Regions from separate parts of the Homo sapiens genome. Here region 1 is linked to region 2. The links come from fine-mapping of genetic effects on gene expression. A gene starts in region 2. The other region holds a variant in brackets. All regions are shown on one strand. Distances are between the middles of the regions. Region 1 overlaps ERP44 (endoplasmic reticulum protein 44). Region 2 holds the start of ERP44 (endoplasmic reticulum protein 44).

Region 1 (2,913 bases), 78 kb after region 2:
GCTTGCCCTGACTACATATGAGGGTAAATAATTTTTTTTCATTCTTTTAGCTGACATAGCCCAGAGATACAGGATAAGCAAATACCCAACCCTCAAATTGTTTCGTAATGGGATGATGATGAAGAGAGAATACAGGGGTCAGCGATCAGTGAAAGCATTGGCAGATTACATCAGGCAACAAAAAAGTGACCCCATTCAAGAAATTCGGGACTTAGCAGAAATCACCACTCTTGATGTAAGTTGTAACTTTTGCTAGATTAAACAAACATTCCCTGATTAATGTAAACAAATTCTAATGCAAACAAAAAATCTGGACATTCTCCTATAGTCTATTGCAGTGGATTTGACATACGTATACTTAATGAGTTGAATTTTTTTGAATTAATCTCAAGGCAAATGCTTATGTTATACTGAACTTCTGGATAAAAGATATAGCATGCAGTAAAGCTGTACTAATTTGAATTAATTGAGCACAAAGGAAAGCCTCAATTATAAAGAAATGGAAGTTAAAAGTCAAGTATATACAACCAGAGCTTCTGTATTTTTCTTGTGGAGAGCTTCAGGGTGTCTGCTCTAATTACTTTTGTATGAGCTCTTTTTATGAGTTTTAATGTCCTCTTAAATAGCCTCTTCTTAATAATAAGTTTAGCACACCCCTTTCTTTGTACACTAGGTAGTGTTTTAAAGATAACAAACAACAAAAGCAAAAACAATTGAGTTTGGGCTTTATCACAATCACCAATCATCACTGTCAGGTTTGAGATTTGACTTTACCCTACTTGCAAGCTAAGCTAACCAATTACCATTTCATGGATTCTTTTAGAAGACACAAGACTGCTGGGTCAGAGACAAAGGACTTTATTGCTCACATCACAGCAAGTAGTGTGAGCATGTTTGCATTTGTTTCCTTGCCCTCCAAATCCTATGGAGGCAATACAGAGGGCTCCCCAGATGGATACCTGCACATGCACTGGGTTATGTCACAGGAAAGGGACACTGGGCTTGGGGAACTCACTATTTCAGAGCAAGCAGTAACCCTGCTATTTGTCCTGGCTAGAGGCATTACCTCGTATTTCCGTGTTGCTCGCTACAAGCACAACTCTGAGAAATGGCCTGGATAAAGGATAGTCAGGGTCTTGCATTTTTTGGTGTACCCAGTAAGATGGGTAGGAGTGTGAGAGAGCCATGGAGGAGTCTCTCCAACAGTCACAAGTTATGATTGATACATTGTTTTAACACATTTTAGAATTAGTCCCCTTACTTAGGAAAAGATTGTCACTGATCAAATAGTTATCTATTTCTTAAGAATTTTGAACGCTGGAAGGAAATGTTTATGATTGTATTTATTATAGTTAAGATTGTTTTCAACCCAATGTAATCTTTAACAGTTTTGGACTAGGTGTTAAAAACTAAATATGCATTTATAGTCATACTTCATTTGAACAATGACTGGACTTGTTTAGGTACTAAGATAACGGGTAAATGAAATAACATGTTTATAAAACTATGTATGTTTGCAAAATAATTGCATACTT[T/C]ATTTTACAGCGCAGCAAAAGAAATATCATTGGATATTTTGAGCAAAAGGACTCGGACAACTATAGAGTTTTTGAACGAGTAGCGAATATTTTGCATGATGACTGTGCCTTTCTTTCTGCATTTGGGTAAGTATCTTATTTAAAAGTGTGTTAGTGGGTTGGTTGGCTGCCATGTTAAATTGCTGTTGTATTTGGTCATTTCCTGAAGATGATCTTTCCAAAAATGATCTCAATCCTTTTAAAATCACTAAACAGTCTTTATACCTGTCTCTGAATTCTTTTTAAGGTTTTAAAAGTCTGTTTTTCTTTCTGTAGTATTATCTATTTCAGAATGTGGGCAAGAGGGAAAAAATGGACAAGTTAACAATTAACTAATTCATGCTTTTATTCAACTCATTTACTAACTCTTACCCTATGTCAGACAAAATGCTAATCTGTGGGGTAACCACAGTGAAACAACACACTGTCTTTCTTGTTAAGAAGCATGAGTTTTATCGTCTTCATTCATCTCCATCTCTCCACCACCTTTTTTTATAGATCTTCCCTGTCTCAGGGGAACAATTCTTTCTAAGGCTAACCTCTTCACTGATGTCCTTGTAACTGGTGTCCTTCAAACTCCTCTGGGGCTTTGATCCATCAGTTGTTCCTGCTTGTGTTTTCAACCTGACCCTTTTCAAGAACTGCTTTCCTTTTCTGAAAACACGCTTCTTTCTTTCCTGACCTGCCTCTTCTCTTAAGCTATAATTTCACCTTTCTTTTTCTTTTTATTTTTTTCAAAGATTAGTTTATGCCTGGCTACCTTGATTTTCTTAAATTCTAACCAGTAAAAAACTTAACCTTTTGGAAGCTAACTTTCACCTCCATTGCTCTAATGAAACTTGTCTCTACACAGTCACAAAATGACTTCTTAATTACCAAATCGAGTGGCCTTTTAAACATCTTACTCCTTTTCAATTCCTCTGAAGGGTGTGATGTTCAACTACCTTTTTCTTTTTTTGCTGTGTCAACACTTACATTGAATCCCCCTGGTTTGCTCCCTACCTGTCTGAATTCTGTGACTTTATCTCCCTTTTTTTTTTCTTTTTCTCAAGATGGAATCATTTTTGTGGTTCTGTTCTTGACCCTCTCTCCTCATTGGAGGTTATCTCAACCATCCTTTGACTTCCATGCAGTATTATTTCTCTTTTCATTGGCTCATGACTATTAGGCTTAACTGTAGTAGCTATCTTGAATGGAGCCTGGATGTCTGGCACAATATATCCTCTCCATTTTTTGACCTTTATTGTTTGTCCTTGCTTTAATGCTTTTGTGAGATTTTGTTTGTATGTTTTATTGTGCGCATTATCAGTTTTTTGTTTTTTAAGCGATTGAGGTCTCA
Region 2 (2,913 bases):
ATAATATATATATTATATGTACATATATAATATATATATTATATATACATATATAATATATATATTATATATACATATATTATATATATTATATGTACATATATTATATATATTATATATATATACTTTTTACTTCATAATTCTTAGCACTTAGCACAGTAACAGGTATATAGCCAGTACTCAGTAGATGTTTGTTGGATGAAAGGTCACAGGCTGAGTGCTAAGTCCAAAAAGTGAGCAGGATCAAAGTTTAATTTCTTGAATAATGAGTTCATACTTACAAGTCTCTGCTCTTTTAAAATTTCCCATTTCAACTATCTTTGGGCTCTGTCAGGGGCGTGGACAAGAGATAGGAGCACTAGTCTAGGAGTTAGGCCGCCTTGGTAAGAGTATTGGCTCTATCACTGTCTAATTTTGTCACCCTGAGAAAGCCATTATGCAGGGCTCTTTTTTTTTCTTAAGAAAAAATGTATTTTTTGCCCCTTTAAGAAAATAAATCATTTTTTATAGAAAAAAGTCAAAACCACTTTGATAAAGTGCTATAAAATGCAAAGGTGTCATCATCCTTGCCTAATTATACAACAAGCCCGTGTAATAAATGCTCTAATAATTATAACCGTACAAAACTAGAGGTACTGCAGTCACACTCATAGGAAGAGTAATTCTGATTAGGACTAAAGGGTTGGTTGTTCGGGAAGTTCTCAGAGATGGTGACATTTAAGATAGCATTCCAGAGAGAGAACGGGTAAGGCCATTCCAGGCAGCAGGAAAGCTGAAGCAAAGGCGGGAGCAGGGAGAACCACAAAAGCACAGTGTGCCTCCTGGGTACTAAGCAGAGATCGCGTGGGCTCCTGGACCTCACTGAGTGTTTGCAGAAGAAGCCGCAGAGCTACCTGGGGCCAAGTTAGGATCCTCGACTGCTTTGCTAGGGAATTTCGTAATTATACTGGAGGAGCGATCCACGCCTTAGCAGCAATCACTCACACAGTTTTCCAGTTTACGACGTGCTATCCCATCCCGTACCACATCTACTCCTTACAGGAGCCCTCAGAGACAATCAGGGATAAGTCATTGACTCATTCAACTGAGGCCCCGAGTGGTGGCTCTGACTTTATAATGCAGGAATTAGAGCAGAAAGAAGAGGCAGCGGGCGAGGAGGCCAATGATGGAGGCTCAGGCCACAGCCTAGGCCAGGAAGGCCGTGAGTCTGCAGCAGGGGCCAAGGCGGTGCGGACCGAATGATCTGAGCCTCCCCAGCCAGGCCCCCTCCTACTCACCCTCGCCTCCTCCAGGACTGACGTCCCGGGGGCGGCTCCAGGAGGCGCAACCCGGACCGGGCCGCCCCTCCTGCCGGGCCGGTACACTATATCCAGCCAGGTCAGACCCCACGGCGCTGAAGCTAGCCGAGCCCCTCAAAAGGCCGCCCGAGGCTTTCGGCCGCACATCCTTCTGGGAATTGTAGTTCCCATCCTCTGAAGCACCGCGTACACCCGCCCTCCGCCCTTCTATCCCACAGGACCCCGCGCGCAGAGGACTCAGTGGACCGGGGCCGAGAGCCCAATGGGAAAGGAAGTTCTAGATGACGGACGACGTGCGGGGTGAGGCTAGTGCAGGACTACATTTCCCGAAGTGCACCGAGGTGGGCAGGACCCGGAAGTGAGGGTGTGAGAGGCCTCTCTGGAAGTTGTCCCGGGTGTTCGCCGCTGGAGCCCGGGTCGAGAGGACGAGGTGCCGCTGCCTGGAGAATCCTCCGCTGCCGTCGGCTCCCGGAGCCCAGCCCTTTCCTAACCCAACCCAACCTAGCCCAGTCCCAGCCGCCAGCGCCTGTCCCTGTCACGGACCCCAGCGTTACCATGCATCCTGCCGTCTTCCTATCCTTACCCGACCTCAGATGCTCCCTTCTGCTCCTGGTGAGTGAGGGAATGACAGACCCATCGACAAACGCACGAACGGCCTCCGGCCCTCGCCCAGGGGGAACACTGCTACTCCTGCCCCTGCTTTTCCGTCTTTTCCTGCAGTGTTTTGGAGTGCACCCTCCCCCGCTGCCCTCACTCTCGCCTGTCGGCTTCCAGGCGCGGAGTCCCCGAGGCCTGAGAAACCAGTGTCGGGGGAGAATGGGAGAATTAGCCCTGAGGGACTGATACGTAGTCACGGCGTAGGAGCTTCCCCTTCTCCCCGAAGTCCGGGGGTTTCGGTTTCGAGGGCTAGTGGACCTGGTGGTAGCTTGAATCGGAAAAGACCAAGCATAGACCTAGCGTTCCTTCCCACCCTCTCCATTTGGGAAGAGTGTGAGGTCGACAGGTGCTGGGGTTGTGTGACTCTCACTGGGTCTAGATCCCTGAAGCGGTGCCCGGGTTGGCAGATCCCTCTGTTGTGGCTTGATGCGATTGGTTGGGAACCCGGAACTGGAGACTGGTTTGGATTCCACTGGGAGAATAGAGTTTGAAGGGTGGAAGGTGTGGTTACCTGACAATCTCAGCTCAAGGCCTCCCTCAAATCTTATTGCAACGTATTTCCCCATGGAAGCAGATTTCTTCTTCATTGCGCCTTATTTGAATATGCATTCATTCCTAACTGCCTAACCTGCTCAGCATCATCCCATCTTAAAAGAATCTTTCCCTAGTCCCTCTTGCCCCAGAGTACGTCTTGAGTGTGCAGACTAATTGATCCAGGCTTCAGGTCAAATTGAGACAAAAGCGAAGGACTAAACACGTATGGCAAAATGGCTTATATTTAATTGGGCTGTTAATTATAATGTAATATTTGAAAGTACCTTAATTGTAGTAGATTTTTAGAAATTCAGATTTAAACATTAAGAACTACTTTCTTTACAATTTAAGAAACGATTTAGTGACGCATATGAAGTCACACAGCTAGTTACAGGCAGAGCTGGGATTAGAAACAAGTCTCTTG

The links. PIP is the estimated chance that this variant, and not a neighbour inherited with it, causes the effect. A credible set is the group of variants that fine-mapping cannot tell apart.
Region 1: its variant is the best candidate, but not a certain one, in a credible set for the expression of ERP44 in whole blood (INTERVAL, PIP 0.58).

What each region holds. Positions count from the first base shown.
Region 1 is chr9:100,019,364-100,022,276 of GRCh38, reverse strand. It overlaps ERP44 (endoplasmic reticulum protein 44), which reads left to right. Exons shown (of 12, transcript NM_015051.3): 5 at 51-235; 6 at 1,546-1,661. All of the region lies in intron 2 of LOC105376176 (a long non-coding RNA gene), which reads right to left. Among named protein-coding and RNA genes, the nearest start is that of ERP44, 78 kb to the left of the region's middle. The variant T/C (reference allele first, on the strand shown) is at 1,536.
Region 2 is chr9:100,097,781-100,100,693 of GRCh38, reverse strand. ERP44 (endoplasmic reticulum protein 44) reads left to right here and starts at 1,694. Exons shown (of 12, transcript NM_015051.3): 1 at 1,694-1,910. The coding sequence starts at 1,854. It overlaps INVS (inversin), which reads right to left and starts at 1,451. Exons shown (of 17, transcript NM_014425.5): 1 at 1,278-1,451. RefSeq lists a silencer at 1,178-1,387 and enhancers at 1,628-1,767, 1,778-1,847.